Regions from separate parts of the Homo sapiens genome. Here regions 1, 2, 3 and 4 are each linked to region 5. Evidence: fine-mapped expression QTL. A gene starts in region 5. Each other region holds a variant in brackets. All regions are shown on one strand. Distances are between the middles of the regions.

Region 1 (5,000 bases), 98 kb after region 5:
GAGTGCAATGGCACAATCTCGGCTCACCACAAGCTCCGCCTCCCGGGTTCCAGTGATTCTCCTGCCTCAGCCTCCCTAGTAGCTGGGATTACAGGCATGTGCCACCATGCCCGGCTAATTTTGTATTTTTAGTAGAGATGGGGTTTCTCCATGTTGGTCAGGCCAGTCTCGAACTCCCAACCTCAGATGATCCGCCTGCCTTGGCCTCCCAAAGTGTTGGGATTACAGGCATGAGCCACTGCGCCCAGCCTATTTATTTTTTTATGTGGAGACGGTGGAGTGGGGAGTGGTTGTGGGGGGGGGGGTCTTGTTATGTTGTCCAGGCTGGTCTCGAACTCCTGGACTCAAGCAATCCTCCCACCTCGGCCTCTCAAAGTGCTAGGATTACAGGAATGAGCCACCGTGCCCGGCCTTGGTGATTTCTTAAAAAAAAAACAACTACCATACAACTGAGCAATTGCTGGGCATTTATCGCAGAATGAGAAAACCTGTGCTCACGTAAAACTATGTATATGGATGCTTATAGCAGCTTTATTCATAACAGAACAAAACTGGAAACAATTCAGATGTCTGTCAACAGGTGAATGATTAAACCACTGTGGTCTAGCCATAGCAGTCATACTGTTTCCACTCTCCCGGGTGACTCTTTCCCACTTTCCTCTCTCTACTTAACCTCCAACAACTGGGAGCCTCCCTCAGTCTCATTCTTAGGTCAGGTGATAACCTCGCTTTCTAACTCAAGGAGAAAAAAAAAAAAAAAAAAAATCAAAGCAATTTGGAGTCCGTCCAAGGCTCGGACCACCAAATCTACCCACCTACCAGCACCTGTACCTGTAGAGAGATAATGCCTTCTCTCATGCTGCTACAAACCTTCATACTCCTACCCAAAGTGAATCCCTCTGGTTGTTGAATTGGATTCCATGGAGTCCAATTCAGTAATAAAAAGAAACAAACTATTGATACACACAGCAATCTCCAGAGAATTGTGCCAAGTGAACAAAGCCAATCTCAAAATGTTACGTACTCTATGGTGCCATTTATTGAGCATTCTTGAAATGATAACATGATAGAAATGGAGAACAGATTAGTGGTTGTCGGGGTCTAAGAAGGGCATGGGGGCAGGAAGGAAGTAGGCGTCGCTATAAAAGGACAATGTGGGCCAGGCACAGTGGCTCATGCCTGTAATCCCAGCACTTTGGGAGGCCAAGGCGGGTGGATCACGAGGTAAAGAGATTGAGACCATCCTGGCCAACATGGTGAAACCCCAGTCTCTACTAAAAATACAAAAATTAGCCAGGCGTGGTGGTGTGCACCTGTAGTCCCAGGTACTCAGGAGGCTGAGGCAGGAGAATCGCTTGAACCGGGAGGCGGAGGTTGCAGTCAGCCAAGATTGCGCCACTGCACTCTAGCCTGGTGACAGAGCAAGACTCCGTCTCAGAAAAAAAAAAAAAAAAAAAAAAAAAGGCGGGGGAGGTGGGTCAATGTGAGGGATTCTTATAGCAATTGAAAAAAAATTTTGACATGACTGTATCAGCGTCCATATCCTGTTGTTACCCTTGCAAGATGTTACCCTTGGAAACTGGATAAAGGCATCTCTCTGCATTTTCTCTTACATCGGCATGTGAATATACAATTATCTCAAAATAATAAGTTACATTTTTTAAAAAAAAGAAAAATGCACTGATGTAAGTATACACATCACTTACACAGTATTTTTGCCAAAAAAAATAGCGTAATGCAAATTAAAAATAAACTGAGATACCCTTTCCCACCTATCAGATTGGCATAAATCCACAAACTTAACAACACTTTCCGTTGGCAAGGCCATAAGAAAATAGGTACTCTCATAAGTTGCTAGTGAGAATGCAGTAAGATATAATCTGTATATATTTATAAATAAAGGGGAATTCA[G/A]CAATATCTAGCAAAATTACATATACATCTACCCTTGACCCAGTGTCCACTGCTAGGAATCTATCCCAAAGTCAAACCAGCAAAAGTACAAAAAGATGCACACGTAAGGCTATTCATTGTAGCTCTCTGTGATAGAAAAAAGTAGGAATAATCCACATGCCCATCAAGAGGGAACTGGTTGTAAAAAGCAAATAACAACAATCTCCATGTACTGCAGTGGGGTTATCTCTATGATGTATTTTTTTAGTGGAAAATAAAGGTACAGAACATATATATTTGCCTGTATACATACACGTACGTATAAATATAACAGAAGGAGAAACAAAAACTAATGAAAATGGTTACCTATGAGGGAGAGAGAAAATAGGGCAGAAAGGATGAAGATGGAAATGAGACCTTTCGAAATGTACCTGGTTTTATAGTTTGGCATTGGAACTCTTTAAATGTTTTCCATAATTATTGCTATGGTTTGAATGTGCCCCTTCCAAAACAGGTGTTGCCAATGTGATCGCATTAAGACGTGGGGCTTTAAGAGGTGGGTTGGCCTACAGGGCTCCTCCCTTGTGAATGGGATTAGGGGCCCTTATAAAAGGACTTGGCAGAGGGAGGGCTTCTCTTGCCTTTTCACCTTACGAGGTTGCAGCCTTCCCCCAACTCCAAGTGCCAGTGCCTTCTTCTTGGACGTCCAGCCTCCAGAACTGTGAGCATTAGATTTCTGTTCTTTATAAATTACCCTGTTTGTGGTAGTCTGTTATAGCAGTGCAAAACAGACTAAAGCAATTATAAAACAAATTTAAGTCAACTGTTTTTTTTTCTTGAGATGGAGTTTTACTCTTGTTGCCCAGGCTGGAGTGTAATGGCGTGATCTTGGCTCACTGCAACCTCCACCTCCTGGGTTCAAGTGATTCTCCTGCCTCAGCCTCCCAAGTAGCTGGGATTATAGGCACTCGGCTAATTTTTGTATTTTTAGTAGAGACGGCGGTTTCACCATCCTGGCCAGGCTGGTCTCGAACTCCTGACCTCAGGTGATACAGTCTCCTCGGCCTCCCTAAGTGCGGGGATTACAGGCATGAGCCACCACACCCAGCCTGTTAACATTGTAAAAAGCAATCCCTAAATGTAGGGAAAAAGAGGGGAGGAGAAGAATTGGAGCTGATAAGTTTGGACAATTTTTAAGGTAATTTTGCTCAAGAGCAGGAAACAGCTGGGGCAATAGTTCATGAGGCCAATATAAGTTGCTGGGTTTTTTTTAAGGCAGAAGAAATAGCATGCAGGAATGATGTACTTAATCTGAGCTACCAAACAACTAGAGGGATTCACTTTGGGTAGGAGTAGGAAGATTTGTAGCAGCATGAGAGAAGGCATTGTCTCGCTACAGGTACAGGTGCTGGTAGACAGCTAGATTTGATGGTCAGAGTCATGGAAGGACTCTAAATTGCTTTGATATTCCCCTTGAGTTAGAAAGCAAGGTTATCACCTGACCTAAGAATGAGACTGAGGGAGGCTCCCAGGTGTTGGAGGTTGAGTAGAGAGAGGGAAGTGGGAGTCACCTGGGAGAGTGGAAACAGTATGACTGCCAGGCAGTATGAAGGCAGGCTGCTCGAGCTTCACGATAGCGAATTTAAGCTGAGCCATAGTCATCATGGTTATATGATTTTCTCTAGCCATGTCCAATTGTGTGTGTGAGAAACTCTTGCTCGTGTATGCAAGGAGGCATGTTCAAGAATGTTATTGCCAGACGGGCGTGGTGGCTCACACCTGTAATCCTAGCACTTTGGGAGGCCAAGGCGGGCACATTACCTGAGGTCAGGAGTTCAAGACCAGCCTGGCCAACATGGTGAAACCTCGTTTCTACTAAAAATAAAAAATTAGGCGTGGTGGCACGTGCCTGTAATCCCAGCTACTCGGGAGGCTGAGGCAGGAGAATCACTTGAACCCAGAAGGTGCAGATTGCAGTGAGCCCAGATCGTGCCATTGCATTCCAGCCTGGGCAACAGAGCAAAAATTGTCTCAAAAAAAAGAATGTTATCATCCACCTTCTGAACTCTTTTATCTCTACCAATGAGAGTTACAGAACTCAAAGGAGAATATTACGCTTAGTATGGAATTTTCCATTTATGCTGGAGGTTGCAAACTTTTTTGGTGAAAAATCAGACCCTGGCGATGACCTTAAGCAGTAGGATGTAAATAACTCCACATGCCTAGTGTTCCAATAATGGAACACTAGGCATAAATGGGTTAATGAACTTCTCAGTGTTGACCCAACTAGTGAACTTAATTTGAAATGTGGGACACCATAATGTGAGCAGAGCAAAAGGGCTACTGCAGAATTCTTAGTGTCCTTAAAAAACTGGATAGGAATTTTTAATTTGTGTTTTCCTGATTATCACATACGTGCATGTAATGATGGTTTTATAGACTTGTAGCCATAGCTATAACCTATAAATTAACTTGTGTGTTGGCTTTCAAATAGGTGACTTTTTGGACGGAGATGCCCATTATGAAAGAAATGGAAATAATTCCCATTTGTACCAGAGACACAAGAAGACAAAAAGAGGAGTTGCAATAGCAAGAGACAAAATGCCCCCAGGTAATGCGTTACTCCTCTAGTAACCTTAAAAATCCGTGGAATCAATTTCTGCTAAAAGAATGCACAAGACTGAATTAATGCTGAAATGTGTTATAACATGTGCCCAATATTCGTTGCATTCTATTCTGTCTGATCTTAATATGGCAGTCTTTGCCTTCATTTTATGTATGTGTTTTCTTGATATGCCCTTGGCCGCCGTCTTTTCATATATTCCCAAATAAAAGACAAGGTTTTATTCCCACAAAATTTTTCATCAACAAAGTAGTCGTCTTAAAGTTCTTGCAAAGTCTTTCAAATTATGGTGTTATCACTTGTTTATTTAATTTTGAAAAACAAGTACTATTTGGGAAGGATGCATTAGCCTGAAATGACGGCAATCAATATCGGTGGATGGGTGGTTATAGAGATCAACTGAAAGAAAGAAGTGAAACAGATCGATTTAAAGTGGATCTCGTGATCACTCTTCGGGGTATGACCTCACAGCTGCAAATGTTAGATG
Region 2 (5,177 bases), 83 kb before region 5:
CCTTTGAAACCTGGGAGAAGGTGGAGGAGGGCTGGGTTGGGGAGAGAAGATAAAGGAATTTGGAAAATCTTTTCTTAAGACAAGAGTCTTGTTGCATAGTGCCAGCCCAGGGCAACTCAAGAAGCAGAGTCTATGTTGGAGAGTTTATGGTGGAGAGGGCAAAGAAAAAATGCCCATTAAAATTGTCTGAATATTACCCCATTACATTATTTATTTAATCCCCATAACCACCCTGTAAGGTAGGTATTATTGTTCCAGTTGTTTCCAAATGGGGAAACTGAGACTCAGAGAAGTTAACTTGAGTCAAAATGTGAGCCCTGACTCCATGAAGAAGTGGCTGAGGCAGGGAAAAGTATAAGATGAACCTGGAGCATCTCGTACCCAAAAGTAAGAATGTGCTTAAGAATGGGTATTGTTGAAAGGGCTCAGGAGCCAACCTTTGGCCCATTGGCCAAAGCTGGAACATTTGAGCAACAAAATAAATAACAGTATTAGATTATAGCCCATATAATAGATATCCATGAGTTCATAGTGATGTAAACAATACATTAATTAAATGGGTGAGAAAGAGCAGCTCTTTCTTACAGAAGAGTTCCAGCGAATAAATGTAGAAGAAATAAAGGAAAAAGAAGACCCCCATTAGAATACTACTGTAACAATTATTGCAAGTGAGATCCACCTTGCTAAAGATAGCAGGTGACAGTTTGAAGAAAAACAGGATATTTGTATACTCTTAAAGTATCTCCCTTAATATATTTATTAATTATAGTGGGGAAAAATAATAACTTTATAGTAGATAAACCCAGTAGACACCAGCATAACCAGGTGACCAAGGTCAACATCATCAGGGATAAGATGCATTGATATCATGTATCCCTGACATGATACACTAAGAAGGTGTATGACACACTTGCCCAAAATGCATAGCCTCAATCTCAGCACAGAGAAACATCAGGCACTTTGGGAGACCGAAGCAGCCAGATCGCTTGAGCTCAGGAGTTTGAGACTAGCCTTGGCAACATGGTGAAAACCTGTCTCTACAAAAAAATACAAAAATTAGCCAGGCTTGGTGGTGAGTGCCTGTAGTCCCAGCTACTTGGGAGGCTGAGGTGGGAGGATTGCTTGAGCCTGGGAAGTCGAGGCTGCAGTGTGCCATGTTCACACCACTGCACTCCAGCCTGGGCAACAAAGTAAGACTCTTTCTCAAAAAGAAAAAAAAATCAGGCAAATTCAAATTGAGGGGCATTCTATGAATTAACTTTCCAGTACTGTTTAAAAGTGTCCAAGTCACGGAAGACAAGGAAAGACTGAGGAATTATCATAGATTAGTGGAGTCTAAAGATATAAAACAACTAAATGCAATGTGGAATACTGAATCAGATCCTAGAACAGAAAAAGGACATTAGTGAAAAAACTGGTGACATCCTAACAAAGTATGCAGTTTTGTCCATAGTTTTGGACCCATGTTAATTTCTTAGTTTTGATCATCGTATCATCATGTAAGATGTTAATATTGGGGAAACTGGGGAAAGGGTATACAGGAACTCTGTGTACTATTTTTGCAACTTTTCTGGAAATCTAAAATTATTTCAAAAAGGTCTGTGTGTTCCTGTTCTTTCACCAGAATAGATCACTTCTACCTTTGGGGAGAGACAAAGCAAATCACAAACAACCATAATAAAGGCAGATCATTGTGTTAAAAGAGGTATGGGAAAAGGGCTGTAAGGGGGAAAGGGTACACACCTGGCAAGGCTGCTGTGAGGATTAGCTCTGTTATTTTATGTTCAGAACACTGCCTGGCATATAGTAGCTGCCATACAAGAGTTAATGTGACATGTAGTTTAGGGAAGTTGAAAGAAATGGCAATTGGGTTGGGTCTTGAAGATGTGTGACTTTGGACAGGCAGAAAGAATATATCTCGTAAAGAAAGAAAGAGCAACCAATTGGGAGAATTTTCTCCATGTCAGTCAATGATAATGGCAACAAAGATTAGGTGGACTGTGTACTTCAAAATGGGAAATTTTCCAAAATGGCATGGGAGTAATAGTGGTGGCAGTAGGAAGGCTGAAATGTTCCTCTCTCCCTGACCCTGGCTGTTTCTACTCCATACAG[C/A]AAATAGAGAAGGAGAAAGTGAACACAAAGAACTGACATCTCAAGAGAAAACCAAGGCAAGTCGAGAAAGGGAAGGGGCATTTGAGAAACATATCTGTGGAATCGCTGAAGAGCTGGTCCACCATGAAACAGGGGTTCCAAAATGTAGAGTATAAGCAACTAGTGGAGGTGCTAGAAACGGTGAGTGAACTGTAGAGAGAGATCTCTGAGAGTAACTTAAATAAGTGTGTTTTGTCAGTGTCAGCTTGCATTAGATTCAGGTGTATGAAACAGAAAAATTAAAAACAAAATCATTACTTAAGCAAGATAGAAATTGCTCCTTCTATCCAGGGCTGGCAATGATAGTTCCATAGCATTAAGGCCTCATGTTCCAGATGGCTGGTGGAACACCAGGCATTAAGTCAGCATTACAAGCCATTAGAAAGGTGGGAAGAACAAAGAGCTGTGCACTACTTCTCTTTCAGAAGATTTCATGGAAGTCCCCACAATACTCCATTTTATGTCTCATTGACCAAAACTTAGACACATAATCATACCTAGCTGCAAGAGAGGCTAGGAGATAGAGTCTTTTAGATGAGTGCATGCACATCCCAATAAAATGAGCATCTGTTACTAAGGAAAATAAAGAGTATGGATGTTGGAACAGACAACAAACAGCCTCTGTGAAAGGTAGCAAAGAAGAGAGCCAGGGGGAGACATTTTCACCTAGGACAGTGAGTCTCATAAATCCTGGATTCCTTCTCCTGCTCCTCCTGGCCCCTAATTTCTTCTGTCATTCAAAAGCCTCTTTCTGGAGAGACCCAACTAGCCCTACTTTCTCTCCAGAAGAACTCCAGTCCTGGAATTGGACTGTGGCTCAGTCAGTGACATTGGTGTCAGGTTCCTATTCACTGTTACTCTGCAGAACCCCAAACCCTGGCAAAACCATCTCCAACATCATCTCCTCATACCATCTCCCCCTACCAGTTATGCTCTGCACTACCAGGGATTTTCTCCTTTAGAACCGGGTTTGGATTCAAAAAGGCGAACTCTCTGCATGCCAAGCCTCTGCACACCAAGCCTCTGCACATTGGCTCCAATCATACTTTCTGGGTAGAAATAATTAGTATACAATAAGTATCCCTGTCTGTTCATGGGGCTCACACATTTTTAAAAATAGAGAAAACCTTTAGCTCCCTCTCATCATTTCAATAATTAAGAGCTCTAAGATTCATCACACTTTTTTCACTGGTAGGAGGTAGAACATTGGAGAAAAATCTAAAGCCCAACATAAGTAAAGGAAAGACTTATGGCTTAGTATAGGTAAGCCTGAGTTAGTTTGTATTATCCCACAAAGATAGCTTTAATTTTAAACCAAAAAAGCATCTCTTTCCTGAAAACCCGGAAACATGTTTTAGATTAGGAAAAACAGACCCTTGATATTCTTCCATCCAGGCCATGAAGGAAAAGGAATAGTCGGTGTTCCTTGGAGCAACAAGGTTGCTGTAAGGCCAGGAGTCAACCATATACCCAGGCACTTACCAGTTCCTTGGGGAGGGAGTCAAAATTAGCAGTCTGTGATTACGGCATTTGTGTAACCCAATGTGGGCAGGTGGTATGTGAAGTACTAACTGATGTGTTTCACATCCTGGCCTGCTAAAACTGCATTTCAGAGAACTTGTTCACTTATGCCCCTTTTCCTTCCTCTCTCCAAAACCACACAAAGACTGTTTGAGTTAGGAAAGAGGAGGAATAGGGTAACTGGAACATAAGCAGGAGAATTAGACCCTGGTGAGATCTATGAGATGGGGCAGAAGGGAGGGAAAACAATAGATTCCCAGATAGGTTTAGTGATCGAAGGGCAGAGGGACTTTTGATCAAAACCAGGAAAGTGAGCATTCTGTCCTCTTTCTCTCAATACCTTTCAAGGTAAAAGATAGAATGCTGATAGGACAAGTCTAAGAGACAGTCTGAATCTACTCTCATGTGGTGTGTGTGTATGTATGTGTGGTATGTGTGTGCATGTGTTTGTGTCTTGATGGGGAACAGGGAGGAGCATCTTCAAAGGATGAGGAAGTGCCAGATGACCCAAAGCCCTTAGGATGAGGAAGACACAGGATATAAGGTGATATGGTTTGGCTGTGTCATCTTGAATTGTAATCCCACAATCCCCATGTGTTGTGATAGGGAGCTGGTGGGAGGTAATTGAATCATGGGGTGTTTTCCCCCATGCTGTTCTCGTGATAGTGAATGAGTTCTCACGAGATCTGATGGTTTTATAAGTGTCTGGCATTTGCCATGCTGGCACTCATTCTCTCTCCTGCCACCTTGTGAAGAGGTGCTGTCTGCCAAGATTGTAAGTTTCCTGAGGCCTCCCCAGCCATGCAGAACTATGAGTCAATTAAACCTCTTTTCTTTATAAATTACCCAGTTTCGGGTATTTCCATATAACAATGTGAGAACAGACTAATACTAGTACATGTGGCCTACTGACCAGGACAGTGACACCTCGGCATACTCTAGCTAGGAGAGATGCCCATGACCATGGACCACAAGCTTCCCCTGGTGCCAGGATCCAAACTGGGACCTCAAAATCTTAAGCACACTCTGGAGACGCCTTAAAGAGGTTGAGAGAATCATGAACTGTGAGGGAATCATGAACTGATTCATTTTTAACCTGAAAGTCGTGGTGCTTTCTCAGAAATAACTAAGATTGTGTTTTCTGCCATTTGGTGAAAATGGGGCTAAACAAAAACACTGAGTAATAGAAAGAGTTACTTTCTCTTTTTGCACACCTGACTTGATACTTGCTACCTTAGTCACCCATTTGAGGTGTGGTGTTAGGTGTTTCTTGGGAATCTGCAAGGTGCTCTGATAGTAGACTGAGGGAAGGCACAAAACATCACTAGAAGCTCTGACCAAGTTTTTGTTTTCACTACAATCATTTCTTTAGGCACAGCTGTCACCAAGAGAAGTCCTACTTTGAAAAGCAGATGGCAGGAGTTTTGAATACAAAAAAGGAGTTGCCTGGGCAGATGGCAGTAGACAAGGCATGAAGAAATGAAGGTCTCAACAGAGACGCAAGA
Region 3 (5,000 bases), 60 kb before region 5:
AAAATTTGAAAGCCACGGTATTAGAAGTACTCTGTTAATGAGGCCAAGGCCACAAGCTCAACCCCTCGGGAGCCAATGAGATTGCTTGGACGCTATTTTCATTTCTTTCATTCAATTCATAGGTATGTATGAATCTGTAAACTAGGCCCCATAAGAGCAAACATGGCCCTGCCCTCCAGGAGTTTATAATCTAATTAGAAGTTAAAATGCACAGAAATAATTACAGACAGAATACAGAATAGCACATTAAGGACATGCTAGCAAAGTCTGTGGTACTGGTGCAAAGACAGCTTTGCAGGGAAAAAACAGGAAGGAGAGCAGGATTTAAACAGAAACTTAAAGAATGTGTAGGAGGATAATAAGCAGGGTTGGATGCTAAGGACTGCCCAGAGGCTACCCTCTTTATCCACCTTAACCTCACGTGTCATTGTCATAAGGGATGCTGGAAAATATAGGAAATATAGAAGCATCAGCAACTCAGGGATGTGTCCTACCAGCAGAATACCTGGTAAAACATAGGTGCTTAGCCTGTGTCTGTTGAGTGAATGAATGAATGAATGAAAATGAAGGATGAGCCTAGCAGCATTTCAGATAGATTGTGGATTAGCAAGAAGAGATCACACCACACACACACATACACACACACACACGCACACAGAGTCAGCATCCGCAAGGTCACATCTTCCTTCAGGAGAAGGAGACAGAGTCAGTGCCCAGATGTACCTGAACAATATCTCTGGCTCTCATTTTTCAGCGTTTCAAAATCCCCAAGAATTCACCCTTGACTCATTGCAATGCTCCTTTACCCAGGTGTTTTTAATACCAAGTTTAGTCCAAGAACCAAGGCCAGAAATCCATTTCCTTCCAAGTCACTAGTGTTATCTTTATATGGGAAGGCAACACCTCAGCATATTATTACACATATCTCCCTAGGTCCTTTATGTGTATATTTTTTCTTCTGACCTAAATAATAAGATTTTGGTAGATAAGAACCATTTTTTTTCTTCTACTGAATTCTTCTTACTGAGTGGGAATACTAAGTGATACATTTCCTTGTGAATAGAGTGAAATGTTTAATAAGATCTCTGTAGATGAAAAGATAAAAAGATGGATAGATGGATGTGAATGACTGAACAAATGAAAAAAAAATCCTGGAATGAATACGTCCTTAGTGATGATCTAAAGCCTTTTTTGTATATCCTGTCTCTATGGTAGGACAAGAAGCAAGCACAGGCATTAGCATTCGAGGAGTCAGAGGTGGAATTTGGGTCCAGTAAACAGTGTCATCTGAGACAACTCCAGCAACTGAAGAAAAAATTGCTGGTCCTTCAACAAGAACTGGAGTTTCACACAGAGGAGTTGCAGACTTCTTACTATTCTCTCCGCCAGTATCAGTCCATCCTAGAGAAGCAGACTTCCGACCTGGTTCTTCTGCACCATCACTGCAAACTGAAAGAAGATGAGGTATAGACAGATTAACCATGGAAATAACCCACATTCTTAGGTACCTGCAGAAATCAGACCAAGCCCACTAGAAAGCAGACGCTGGACTTAGGAGAGCTTTGCAACATCCCGAGCAGGTTTTATAAACCTTCCCCCTTTAATTCTTGATCTTTTTGAAGCTGAGCAGAAGGAAACTAAACTGAATGGCATAACTCGGTGAAAGCTGCAGTATTCATGCATGTGGAATATGTGGAGTGTGTGTGCAGGCATGTGTGTGTGTGTGTGTGTGTGTGTGTGTGTGTGTGTGTGTATAAGTCCATCTTCTCCATTCTATTACCATTGCAATGTAAATGCAAAAGACTGTAGGTCTCTGAGGGTTATCAAAGAGGTATAAGGTCCATTAAATCCACCATTTTTAGAAAAATAAGGTCTTGATAATATATAAATTCCTGGCACGTGCACACTAGATAAGATAACCAGATGTTGAGTGGGAGTCAATCATTGAGAGTACCAGGTAATTTTTTCAGACTGGAGTTTTAGATCATATAGGCTTCACTTAGGTATATTCAGGACATTAATTCCCATTCATGTTCCAGGGTGGTATTTTCTAAGC[C/T]GAAGAGTACCACCCCTTTAGAATCCCAAGTAAATTCCAAAAACCCAAAGCTGCAGCACTAAAACCACTTGAGCAGTGATAGCACTAGGTGCAGTAAACCATGGGTTCTAAATGATGGGACAGACGTACTCTTCCATCCTGGGGTTTCCCCTGGCATTTTCTTTCTTTAGATTTAAAGATAAAATTTCAAGGAGTTAGGTTCTATTGGAAGGACGGAGAAGAAAAAAAAATTTCAAAGAGTGTTTTGGATGGTGCTGTTGCTTAAGGACTAACTTCAAGGACTTTAGGTAGGACCTTACAGACCATAGACTTTTTAAAAAGGGAATATTGTCACCTAGTGAAAATCTGCTCAAAAGAATTAAGAGTGGGAGGAACAGAGAAAGGTTATTCTAATCCTACAAATATAATCTATGACTTAGCCTGTGCACATACACATAGTTTTAAAAAGATAGTGCAGGGCTGTGTTAAAACTTAGTGGTTCACTACAACTTAAACAAAAGGGTCCAGCCTGGATAAAGTGACCCTGAATGAGTTGGGATTCTATTTAGCAGCATATAACAGAAAATAAATAAGCTAGTTGATTTCTGTGTCATATTTAAAAAGGTCAGAGACAGGTGGTCTGTTGCTGTTATGGCAACTGTGTGTGTCATCAGGTCTAAGGGTCTATCCTTGGGTTCCACCAGCATCAGCTCAGGGCTTCCATTCTCTAAGTCACCTGAGGTGCCTGCTGGAGCTTCAGCCGTCACATCCTTTTTTTTTTTTTTTTTTTTTTTTGAGACGAAGTCTCAATCTGTCGCCCAGGCTGGGATGCATTGGCCCGATCTTGGCTCTCTGCAACCTCCGCCTCCCAAGTTCAAGTGACTCTCCTGCCACAGCCTCCTGAGTAGCTGGGATTACAGGCACGCACCACCACACCCGGCTAATTTTTGTATTTTTAGTAGAGACGGGGTTTCACCATGTTGGCCAGGCTGGTCTTGAACTCCTGACCTCGGGTGATCCGCCCATCTTGGCCTCCCAAAGTGCTGGGGTTACAGGCATGAGTCACCATACCAGGCCACATCCTTGTTCCAAATAATCCAGATAAAAGGGCAGAGGACCAGGTGACAAGGGTGGAAAGGAAAGGCACACTCCCTTCCTTTTAAGGACACTTTCCGGAAGCCACAACACCTTCACTTAAATATCCCTGGCCAGAATTAGTCACATGGCAACAGCTAGTTTCTAGGAAGCCTAGGAAATGTGGTGTTTTAGGAGGTGCATTGCTGCCCCCAGTAGAGTCAAGGTTCTATTAGTAAGGAAGAGCGGGAGAATACATACAGGACTCGGCAAATAACAGTCACTGTCAAAGATCCCAAACCGAGAAAGCATTGAGAGAATTATTTTAGACATTCTGCCAAGTTCCCCCAATGTCTTGTTGCACAGCCTCATCAAACATCTGTCTAAGGTTGGGTTCACTCAACAGCAGACCCTAAGACAAGGATATAAATTCAAGTAACTAATTCCGGAGGTGATTCCTGCATGCACATGAGCAAGTGAGTCAAAGAAGGACCGGAAGCCCATAAAGGACACTGGTATTGAGTAGATTGCTTGCTTGGTCCCTCTGGGGAACTCTGGGAGATAGTGTAGAACATGCCTCAGAGTGAACCCACCAACATACCCCCAGTCATTGGTTGAGGGCTGCTCCTGAGGGCGTTAACCCCCCAGCACTTCTAACCTACCCTGTCTTGCCTCTCTGGTTGAATGGGCTCCTGGTATTAGAGAAGCCCTCAGGCAGAGTTGAATATGCTTGCAGTGGGAATGGGGTTAACTTGCAAAGAAATAGCAAGTGCCCAGGGGATATGGGCTGGCCACTGACAGCTTTGGTTACAAATATTTGGATATAAAATATTCCTCTCTTCTTCCCCTTACGTAGTAGACACCTTACACAAAGTTATCCTTTCCTAAGAAGAATCTCAAATGACAGACAGCAAGTATAATGAGCTTAAACTAATGGAACATGTTCTATCAGCATTCTACATTGGATTATTTAAACTAATATAAAGCCATCCTTCATGACTCTTCTGCTGTTAACTCCTTCAACACATCAAATTCGAGCCATACAATTTAGCACACTCAACTACCTACAGCTGTTTATTCATTTTAAATCTTATGTCCCCAAGATTGTGAAAGTTTTAAACTCTTTGAGGGGTGAGCATATGTCTAATATGTATATATCCCCTCTGCACTTAACACAATGCTCGTGAGCTTTCAATAAATATCTGTCAGTTTGTTGACTAATTACTTGATGAGGAAGAAAATAAATCTAAACAAGGATTGTGCAAATCCCAGAGGAACTTTGGGTCATGTTCCCCACCTATCTCTTGGGAACTTTCCTGACATAGTCCTGTGTGCAGGAGGAAGTCTGCATTTTCTAAGTTCAACCTCTAGAGAATGCCTGGGAAGGAAAAAATACCAGCATTTCAAGCCCTTAAAAAACAGAGCTATACAAATTCATTCCTATTAATCAACTAGCAAGTATTCATTGAGTTTCTGCCACATGCTGGGCAGAATGGGAAATGGATATGATCCTGCCTTGAAGGAGCTTACCTCTAACTAGGGCCACCTTTTTTTGTTTCCAATCATTAGCATCTTGATATTACATACTGTAGCTTTTAGATCTGTGCAGCCTCTCTTCTGTTCATCTGGTCTTCTGGTTCAGATACAAGACTTCTCTGCAGGGAATCTTACAACCGCATCCTTTCCTCATTACGTGCTTCCATGGGCTCAATGTGGATTTATTCCTACACCTACAGGTGATTCTCTATGAGGAGGAAATGGGAAATCACAACGAGAACACAGGGGAGAAGCTCCATTTGGCGCAGGAGCAACTCGCCTTGGCCGGGGACAAGATCGCCTCTCTAGAGAGGAGCTTAAACCTCTACAGGGATAAATACCAGTCTTCCCTGAG
Region 4 (5,177 bases), 130 kb before region 5:
ATTGGTGAGGTTGTGGAGAAAAAGGAATGCTTATGCACTGCTGTGGGAATGTAAATTAGTTCAGCCCTTGTGGAAAGCAGTTTGGCAATTTCTCGAAGAACTTAAAACAGAACTACCGTTCAACCCAGCAATCTCGTTACTGGTTACATACCCAAAGGAATATAAATTGTTCTACCATAAAGACACATGCACACTTATGTTCATCACAGCACTATTCACAATAGCAAAGATATGCAATCAACCTAAATGCCCATCAACAGTGGACTGGATTTTAAAAAGTGTGGTACATATATACCATGGAATATTATGCAGCCGTAAATAAGAATGAGATAATATACTTGACAGCAACATGGATGGAGCTAGAGGCCATTATCCTAAGCACACTAACATAGGAACAGAAAACCAAATACTGCATGTTCTCACTTATAAGTGAGAGCTAAACACTGAAAACACATGGACATAAAGAAGGGAACAATAGACATTGGGCTTACTTGAGGCTAGAGGGTGGGAAGAGAATGAGGATCATTCTCTACCAATGGGGTACTGTGCTTATTACGGGTGATAAAATAATCTGTACACCAAAGCCCCATGCCACCCAGTTTACTCATGTAACAATCCTGCACATGTACCCCCGAACCTAAAATAAAGTTGGAAAGTAAAAAAAAAAAAAAAAAGTAATATATAAAGAGTATACAAGAAAAATATTGTACTCATCTGTAGAGAAGTAAGGGAAAAAATATACAAGAAAGAAAAGAAGCCTAAAAGTGGTCATCCTTTTGACCCAGTAATCTGCTTCTGCAAAACTATCCTAAAGAAATAGAGAGGCACCCCAAATTTATTCATAAGTTTGTAGATTTAACAAATAGTTTTGGTGAGCATTTAGCAGTACCAGACGTTATGCTGGGGACTGGGAATACAGCTGTCAATGAGATGCAGTCTGTGTCCTGTAAGAGCTCACAGTTCAGCTCTGTGTTCCCCACAGTGATGGAGAACTTGACCAGGTATCCTAGAAACGGGAGAAGAGTGTCTCAGCAGGCTGGAGCAGGGATGGCTTCCTGGGTGAAGTGATGTGCAGATGGAGTCCATTGTAGGTGTTAGCCTTGGGAAGATGGGAGTTAAGAACATTCCAGGCAAAAGCAACAACATAACAAAATCGTAAGGGAATAAACTGCATCGGGGTCTTTCAGGAACGAGCAGTTTGGAGGTATCGTACACGATACTCAGAACCTTCCTTTCACCCAGTAGGCCAAAATTCCTCCCAGTGTGTTCAGAGTAGCCTTAGCATTCCTCAGAAATGCTTTAGGGGCCTATGTCAACGACGGTGGGAGAAGGGCTGGGAATTGGTCCAGGCTCGAACCCCACCCCTGCCACAACCCAAGTTGCCTGGGAAGTTTTCCTTAAGATGTTTAACAAAAGGCTTCCACTTCTGAAAAGAAAGTTTGAAAACCTTTGATGGGGAGCTACAGATTTCAAGCACAGGAGTAAGCATAACAGATACATATTTCAGGTAGGTTACCATGGGGGCTACGGGGAAGATATTTCACTTGGCGTTTAGGTGTTTACTTATAACTGGAAACAACCTAAATGTCCAATAATAAGAATGTGATAACATAATAACAATAAATAGCTACCATTTATGAAGTGCTCATTGTGTGGGGGCACAATGCTAAGTACATATATATGCCACATCATTTAACCTTGATAGAAACCACATGTGGTGAATATTATCAATATTTTGCAGATGTGAGGACTGAGGCTTAATGAGGATTAGTAGCTGGTTTTGTATCACCTAGCTGTTAGAGGGGTGGGATTGGAATTCTATGCCACGTCTCTCTGACTCTTAAGGGCATACCATTCTGCCTCCTGAGCAATGATAAATCCACATGGAAGAATGTTATACGGCCCTTTGAAATCATATTTTCAAAGACTTTAATAATATGGGGAAATATCAATAGAATAATGTCAATTTTTTTAATTCAAGTACAAAAATATAGA[A/T]TCATCCCAATTTTATTAATCATGCTAAAATGTTAAAAATATTTATCACTAGATGATGAACTGTAGGTAGTTTTAATTTTCTTTCTTACACTTTTCTTCCAAATGTTCTAGAATAAGCATGTGTCCCTTTAATCATTGGAAGCATAACAAAAAGTTATAAAAAGGATTCAAGGTGAATTGCTGTCATCAGTCATTCTCACCCTAGACTCAAGAGGAAGGATCAGCTCTTTAACACATCTTTCAGAATAACAGTGCAGACTATCCTGTGTGCAAAATGTAAGGGGAATCAGCATGCTAATTATTAGCCATATAACCTTGAAGTTAACGTCTCTGAATCTCAGTTTCTTTTCCTATTAAATGCGGACATTAAGCTAAGTAGTCTTTACAATTCCTAAAAACACTAAATTTTATAGGCTTTTTTTTTTCTACAAATGAAATCAGGCAGAGGGGCATAAAAGAAACATATTAAATTCTTCTTGGTTTAGTTACATTTTCATGAGCATTTAGGGAGGGTGGGTTTTTTATTAGGTCTCAGCTATTTGGTAATATGGTAATATGCTCAGATTCATTTGACATCCAAGCAATGCCAGGTACTTTCATAAAATTTTTTCTCATCTCATCTTCGCTAAAACCTTTTTAGGTGAGCATTATTATGCTCATTTTTGCTGATGGAGATCAAGGGGTTAAGGAACTGACAAAAGGTCTCTCTTGACATGTTGTGGCGAGACTGAAATCCAAATGCTTCTTTGCGAATCTCTAGAATATTGTTAGTTCAGATGTGGAATTGTTGTTTGTTTGTTTGTTTGTTTTATCATTTCAACCACCTTATGTACCGGTTATCAAATAAAATACAGTTTCTGCCCTCAAATATTTTTTGTTCTAAGAGAGAGACAAAATTCTTACAAAGAAACAATTCTGAAATTAAAATTAAAAATGATATATAATGGAGACAAATGGAAGCTTTTGGCAATGTGTCTGTATCCTTTAGTGAGAAGCAAATAAAAGGACATTATTATGAAATTGAAATGGGGGCAGAAACAGTCACTTGTCATTAGTGTCAGGGTCATTTTAATGAAAATTAACCCCGGAAATGCTTGACTAAGCAGTGGAAGCCTACGCACCACTTGGACCTTGACAGAACCAGGGCAGTTAAATCTTTCCTACCTGCACATTAGCTTAAGAGAATAAATCAGTCCAAAGCTACTGGCCATGCTAATTGCTCTAATTATTATCACTGGAAAGGCTAGATAATACCTATGAGGTATTGAAAGATAACCACAGCCCAGAATAATCTAGTAACCAAAGAATTCCCAGAGGAATACTCAGACACTGCTCACAAAGCCTGGGCCAGTTGGATTGGATAACAAAGCGTACAAATATGTAGCTTGACAGAGAGGATGGATTCCATAGCATAGGGTATAGTCTTCAGCTGGGGATGACCATGTTCAGTGGGAATAAAGTGCTCATAGGAAGAACTGGGTAGGGAATCTCAGAAAGTAGTGTTTGGTAGCTTAGAGATGCTTTGGCTTCTGAAGACTGTTGCTCAGTGTGTGTGTGTGTGTGTGTGTGTGTGTGTGTGTGTCTGTGAGTGTGCATGCATGTGTGTGTGGATGTACATGCACATGTGATGTCAGGTATAAGAATTAACCAATTTTTCATCTGTGACCTAGATTGATTTCTTCAAATGTGACTACACACCTAGCATCTATGGGCTATGTGAAAAGGATTATGTCGAAATAAGAGCTTCTAGGATTTTGTGAGGCTTTATTATTATTATTATTATTATTATTATTATTATTATTATTATAAACAGTCTCATTCTGTCATCCCGGCTGGAGTGGAGGGGCATGATCATAGCTCACTGTAACCTTGAACTCCCAGGTTCAAGTGATCCTCCCACCTCAGCCTCCTGAGTAGCTGAAACTTTAGGCATGCACCACCACACCTGGCTAGTTTTTTGTTTTGTTTTGTTTTTGTAGAGACCCCGTGTAAAGACATGGGGTCTTGCTGTGTTACCCAGGCTGGTCTTGAATTTCTGGGCTCAAGTGATCCTCCCGCCTTGGCCTCCCTAACTGCTGGGATTATAGGCATAAGCCACTGTGCCGGGCCAGTGGGGTCTATTGACTTCTTTATTTCCCTGCTGTCCTGAGATAAAAGAGTGACCTAAGGTGGTAAGCTTGACCTCGGAGACTAAGTGAAACAGGCATCTTGTGCATGACCAGCATGGATGTGCCTTCTGTGCATCATTTGGGGTGTGGGGAGAGCACATGGTTTCTCCTGCTCAGACATTGCTTCTCTGATAGGCTCTTCTTTCAGGTGCTTAAAGAAGTAACTATTCTGAAGTGTTCTAGTTCTTTGAGGAATGCTGATGTATGGATAAAGTATGGTGGAGCAAAGAACACTGGACCAGAAGTTGGGGAGGTCGCCTTAGCTCCACCACTGTGTCTCACCGTTAAATTCATCTACAGGTACCATTAATTCTTCATTATTAAAGATAGAACTACATGCTTGTTTATATAAGTAACTCAGAACAAAAAATGTGTCAAAACACATAAATTTTATTGTTAGTAGAGTATAACTAAATTTAAGAAGCCCTTAATATGTGCAAAGTACAAATTCTGTGTGGGATACAAACAAGGCCTTGTTCATATCTTTAGGGATCCTGGAATCTCGGGAGGTGACAGACCAGTGCACGTATTGCAACCAATTGAGGTGTAAGAGACAATATGAAATTGCTATGAGCAAGTTGATTCAGTCACTCAACAAGTATTCACAGGCACTGTGTGAACTCTAAAAGCAAATTACTTCTCTCTGAGGCAGGCGAGGCAAGGTCACAGAAGCTTTATGGAACTGAGCATTTGGGCTGGTGTTTGAAGAAGAGGTTAAAATTTGTCAGGCAGAGCAGAAGGGAGGCAGGTGTGACAAAGGTCATGTGGGAGTCAAAGGCGTGGGAAAGTATAGGGTGTGCTTGGGAAATAGTGAGTGGTTGGGTTGGGCAAGAATCAAAAATGTGTAATTAGAAAAGGAGATAGGGAGAGATAGGCCTGAAAAGATCAATTGTGGCCAGATTCCAGGTGACAACGTTGAGAAGCTTGAACTTTATTCTGTAGACATCAAAGTCTTGGGGCACAGAAGTCACGTGGTTTCATCTATGCTGTAAGACAATCTGGCAGTCAACGGAG
Region 5 (5,177 bases):
TAGGGAAAACACCACTAAATTTGAATCAGAAACCTCAATTAGAAACCAGGCTCTTGACACTTTCTACCTGTATGATGGTAAGCAAATAACTTAATCTTTGTTTAGCCATAATTTCATATCTATTAAATGGAAAAAATTTTTACCTTATCTAATCCATGAAGCTATTGTGAGAATCAAACAAAAAGTGTATGTGAAACCATAAAGAGTAGCTCTTTATGTAACCATAACAGTTAACATAAATGTAACTGCTACATTGTATTATTTGCTATCCTCCTATATACTGTTGGTCCCTCACCCATTTTTTTACATGAGTTCTACCTCTTCCTCTCTTTAAACAACAGGTACAGCAGCACAGAGATGGGGCAGAAGGCTACCGTCCATGTTCTCCATACTTTAGTGGCTTTTCTTGGCCTAGCTGCGTTTTACAGAAAACAATTTACTCACAGCAGCCAAAATCAGTTTAATAACAATCCATGTTCACCAAAAATATTTATGAGAAACACCAGGTTAGGAAAAGGTGTTACTGAGAAGTATTTAAGTGGCTACAAGACTTCTGGCACTCAAGTTGGAACAAGCTCCTCTTTACCTCTCACTACACATCTGCCACTCATCAACATATATCAGTTCTGGATGCTTGGATAATTCCTCTCATTCCAACAAGTTAGCAAAGCAAAGGAGATGCCACCAGAATCCAGAATTGTTTACCAAACTCTAATTAAATGCACAGCTCTACAGAGTATTGCCAAACAGACTGGACACATAATATTAATGCAGAAACAAGAGTTACATTTTGAAAATGCCATCAGGCAGAACAGAAAAAAAGAAAGCTGCATATTGGTGACATCTGTGCGCATGTGAGGAAATCCACACAAGAAGGTAAAGATATACAGGCTCTACTCAATAGTTGTCTAAACTAGGAAAGGTACCCTGGACTGCCATTCTACGCAGTTGAGAGAACACTGGATGTGTTGTTGACTGCTGTAGCTCAATGTCTAGCAAAATAAGCGTTTGATAAATTAAAAAATGAATTAATTTAAACTTATTAAAGGAGGACAGGAACCCAAACATTTCTGGAGACAGCAAGGGAAGATTCCAGCAACACAGGACAAGGAGACAGCCAGAGAGAACTTCATTAGCTGCTGAGACGAACAAATAAGGAGCTAAAGAGCAAGATTCTTGAGAAGGATTAATGGCAAAGAAACTACAAGGCGTACGAGAAAGCCAGGGAAGAAAGAACCTGGATTCATTCATTCAACAATTATTCACTGAGGGTGTCCCTGAGCCAATTGCTGTTCTCGGCGATAGCAACAGAGAACAAGACAAAAATCCCCGCCCACCTGGAGCTGACATTCTAGTAGAAGAGATCGCCCACCAGATTGCCTGGTATAAATGACACTGTGAGAGAGCAGAGGAAGACACAAGGAGTCCTACTCGGGCTCGGTGACAGTCTGGGGTGGGTTAAAGCGGAGGCCTGGGAGAGGGACCAAGGCCACTCCAGGCAGCATCCCTGGATCTCAGCGAGGCCGCTCCAGGCAGCAGGATTTGACCAGAGCAAGGAGGAAGGCCAAGGCGGCCAGGACGGATGCAGCATCCCTGAGGTGAGTAAGGCAAGGTGGGTGACAGGGACGACAGAGGAACTCCCCAAACTGGGGCCCGGACCTGAGCAGGGGACCAATATCCGCCGCCTAGAGCCGCCATGATTACAGAAGGGCAGGCCAGGAAGGAAGAAGGGACTCTCACCTCACCAAGCGCGACTCTTGGGACCCTTCTGTCCCGGATTCTGGGGCGCCGGCGCTGCCACCCCTCGCTCAGACAGGCTCAAGGAGCCAAAATCCACACCTTGAAAGCGGCCATTATTGTCCCTTAATACTTTGCGCGCCCCCTCTATCCGCCCAAAGCTACCATAGAGAGCAGCCTGGAACACGCCCGATTCCTGGATCCAAGTGTGGAACGGTACGCCAACAGGCTCTCAAGGCCTCCTCTGGGGCTCTGATCAGACACTTCCGAGTCTCCTTGTGACCAATCACTCTTAGCCTAAGAGACTACATCCCGCCTCTAGTCTGGGGGCAGGAAAAGGAGGGGAAAAAGGTCGACCATCTTTAATACGGGCGGAGGTGACGCCTAGCTTCCGGTCAGAGCCGAGCAAGGTGGGCGGTGACTAGAAGCTCTTCCGTTTATTGGGCTGTTGAGCGGGGGCCGACCGACGGCCAGGAGTTTCTTTTCTGCGCTTGTGCGTTTTCTGTTCGGTTTCCTTCCCGCTAGCGGGGCCACGAGGGTTGCTAGGCAACAGCCCCTGGGTGACTTGGTCTTAGGGTCCTGTCCGGCTTGGGGCTGATGAAAGGAGCTGTCCGCGCCCGGGCTCTTCCGAGAAGTGGTTGCTGACAGCCACAAAGTGAAAGGGAGTGAGGCGGCGTGGACGAGTAAGGTAAGTGCTGGGGTCCCTTAGCGCTTGTGGGCCAGGAGCAGCGCAACACAGGTGACTTTAAATATGTATATCGGATATTTTGGAAAATGGAGATGCGCGCCCGGCTGTAAATAAAAATCACCCATGCGTTCACACGCAGAGATGACCACTGATTTCCAGTTGTTTTTCTGGAATACATTGTAGTAAGATTCTGTACAAAAGTGAGTTCAAGCTTTTTTTCTTTTTTTGGTGTTTCTGCAGTTGTGGCGCGCGCCTGAGGTTCCAGCTACTCGGGAGGCTGAGGCGGGAGGATTGCTTGAGCCTGGGGAGTTGAGACCAGCCTGGGCAACATAGCGAAACCCCGCCTCAGAAAAAGAGAGGGAGAGAGGAAAGCAGTGGAGTTATTGGTCAAAGAGTATGTCAGTTTTCTTTCCAGAAAGGTTTTGTGTCTGCATTCCAGCAGGAACTCCCTGTGCCTGCCCCTACCACTATCTTGTTTAATTTTTGCCAATTCAGTGACTTTGTAAACATATGTTTTAATTTGCTTTTCTTTGCTTACTGGTAAAGCTTAACTTTTTAGTTTATTTACTGTCCATTTGTACGTCTTCTTTTGGGAATTCTCTGTGGGTATCATTTACTATGGACATTTTCTTAGATGTGGTCTCAGTTTTCCTCTCCTGCTTCCAACGTTTGTCCAGTTGCACCCCTAGCCTCACCACTAACAACTTTGTTCTCCCCTTACTTTCTCCTTTCGATCAGTAACACGGAGGAACTGCTGTTTGTTTGAATTCTAGTGGGACAGATCCGTCTTCTCTTTGACCTTCCCTTTCATTGGTAATTTGTTCTGCTGCTCACATCTGATGACGTCCCTTTGGGCCATCAATGTCCCTGTTTAAAGTATGACCTATAGCTGGAACAATCTTATTTCCTATGTGAATTTTAGTTAAATAATTCCTTTTTTTTTTTTTGGAGACGGAGCTTCGCTCTTGTTGCCTTGCCCAGGCTGGAGTGCAGTGGAGCGATCCTAGCTCACTGCAACCTCCGCCTCCAGGGTTCAAGCAATTCTCCTGCCTCAGCCTCCTGAGTAGCTTGGATTACAGGTGGCATCTGCCACCACGCCCGGCTAATTTTTTGTATTTTTAGTAGAGACGGGGTTTCACCATGTTGGCCAGGCTGGTCTCGAATTCCTGGCCATAGGTGATCCACCCTCCTTGGCCTCCCAAAGTGCTGGGATTACAGGGGTGAGCCTGGCCTAATTCGTATCTTAAAATGTGACTTGTGACAAAAAAAATAGGAAAAGAAATCCTCCCTTTTCATATTTGGAACTGAATTCAAAATACCGACCATCTCAATGGAGTCTCTTATAGATGACCACAAAACTAAGCTTCTTTGTCAAAGAGTTTCTCAAAAATGAAATTTCTACCAATCATGAAAATAGATTATTGTAGTAGAAGGACCCCTGGACTAGAAATTTGGTGGCCTGTATTCTAGTCCTTGTCATTGTAGTAGAAAGTGCAACTGTAAGCAAGCTAGTTTGTAAAATGACGGGGTTGTATTAGGTCCCTTGTACCTCAGTATTTTATTATTTGTTTATGGTATTGTAGTTTTCACACACACTCTTAATTGATCTGTTTGCCGTGTAATGAGGTGCACCTAGTAAGGTGCACACGAAGAATCTTTAAGCCAGGACTTGTAATAATATAAAGTATACAATAAAGGACTGTTTAAAAAGTGTAACACATGCAAGAAATAATATGCTGCCATGACAGAGAATATGGATGTTCTCTATATAGAGATATGGGGCAATCTTCATAGGTTAGGTTTGAAATAATGAAAAGTGCTGAAGAGTAGATAAAGTGTGTGTGCTGAACATCTGCCATTGGTCCCTCCACAGCCATTCTTCATCCTCCTCTAGACTGCTCTGGGACAGGGAGGTTTGCCTGCCTCAACAGGCCCCTGCCCTCTGGTTCCAGTTGGAGTCAGCCGGTGGTTGCATGAGCAAAGGTCAGAGGGAGGGAGGAGAGTGGCTGCAACACCTAACAGCAGGCTGCCCTCCTATACACTGTCCTCTCCACTCACCTCTTTCTGCCACACAATTCTTATAACTGCTTCCTACCGTGGCTTCTTCCTCCCATGGCCTAGGGATGGGTACAGCATCCCGCTGTTACTAGCCCCAAAGTAGTACACTTTACCGTATTGTTTTTCTACACCTGCCTTAATTAAACTGCCTTCAAATTACCAAAGTTGAGAGTGTCATCGCTTTCCTGCTGGAACACTGATACAATAGGCTATCTTTTGGGGGTGGGGAGAGAGAGAAAAAAAATATCGGAACGCATATTTGTATTTTTTGGTGAATGCATAACAAAACTCTGAAAGATACATGAGAAACTAATGAAAGCAGTTATCTGGCCCGGGGGAGGGAACAATGAAAACTGGTTCCAAGGAGCAGGGACAAAGAGAGGGAAACTCCACAGTGTTACCTTTCTATGATGTTTCTTTCATACCATGTGAATACATTAGCTACTCTGTGAATTAATTTTTTTTAATGAGGGCTCACGCACTTAATCTAAACTGTCTTTAAACATTGCACCTTTATTTCAGGAGTGACAGTGAGGATTCACATTTGGGTTATTTCAAGATGAGCTTCCTACTGCCCAAGCTGACTAGCAAAAAGGAAGTAGACCAGGCGATAAAAAGTACTGCTGAGAAGGTGTTGGTTCTCAGGTTTGGGAGAGATGAAGATCCTGTCTGTCTGCAGCTAGATGATATTGTA

What was found. PIP is the estimated chance that this variant, and not a neighbour inherited with it, causes the effect.
Region 1: its variant is the best candidate, but not a certain one, in a credible set for the expression of TXNL4B in uterus (GTEx, PIP 0.90).
Region 2: its variant is the best candidate, but not a certain one, in a credible set for the expression of TXNL4B in blood mononuclear cells (TOPMed, PIP 0.72).
Region 3: its variant is the best candidate, but not a certain one, in a credible set for the expression of TXNL4B in sun-exposed skin (GTEx, PIP 0.73).
Region 4: its variant is the best candidate, but not a certain one, in a credible set for the expression of TXNL4B in minor salivary gland (GTEx, PIP 0.81).

Annotation. Positions count from the first base shown.
Region 1 is chr16:71,992,717-71,997,716 of GRCh38, reverse strand. It overlaps PKD1L3 (polycystin 1 like 3, transient receptor potential channel interacting), which reads left to right. Exons shown (of 30, transcript NM_181536.2): 3 at 4,385-4,501. Among named protein-coding and RNA genes, the nearest start is that of PKD1L3, 5.2 kb to the left of the region's middle. The variant G/A (reference allele first, on the strand shown) is at 1,912.
Region 2 is chr16:72,173,938-72,179,114 of GRCh38, reverse strand. It overlaps a transcript of PMFBP1 not described here. Among named protein-coding and RNA genes, the nearest start is that of PMFBP1, 4.4 kb to the right of the region's middle. The variant C/A (reference allele first, on the strand shown) is at 2,113.
Region 3 is chr16:72,150,675-72,155,674 of GRCh38, reverse strand. PMFBP1 (polyamine modulated factor 1 binding protein 1) reads left to right here. Exons shown (of 21, transcript NM_031293.3): 4 at 1,216-1,464; 5 at 4,846-5,000. Among named protein-coding and RNA genes, the nearest start is that of PMFBP1, 19 kb to the left of the region's middle. The variant C/T (reference allele first, on the strand shown) is at 2,057.
Region 4 is chr16:72,224,335-72,229,511 of GRCh38, reverse strand. It overlaps a transcript of PMFBP1 not described here. Among named protein-coding and RNA genes, the nearest start is that of PMFBP1, 55 kb to the right of the region's middle. RefSeq lists an enhancer at 5,099-5,177. The variant A/T (reference allele first, on the strand shown) is at 1,996.
Region 5 is chr16:72,090,615-72,095,791 of GRCh38, reverse strand. It overlaps TXNL4B (thioredoxin like 4B), which reads left to right and starts at 2,172. Exons shown (of 4, transcript NM_017853.3): 1 at 2,172-2,425; 2 at 5,006-5,174. The coding sequence starts at 5,043. DHX38 (DEAH-box helicase 38) reads right to left here and starts at 1,945. Exons shown (of 27, transcript NM_014003.4): 1 at 1,741-1,945. RefSeq lists enhancers at 1,650-1,949, 2,010-2,059, 2,070-2,399.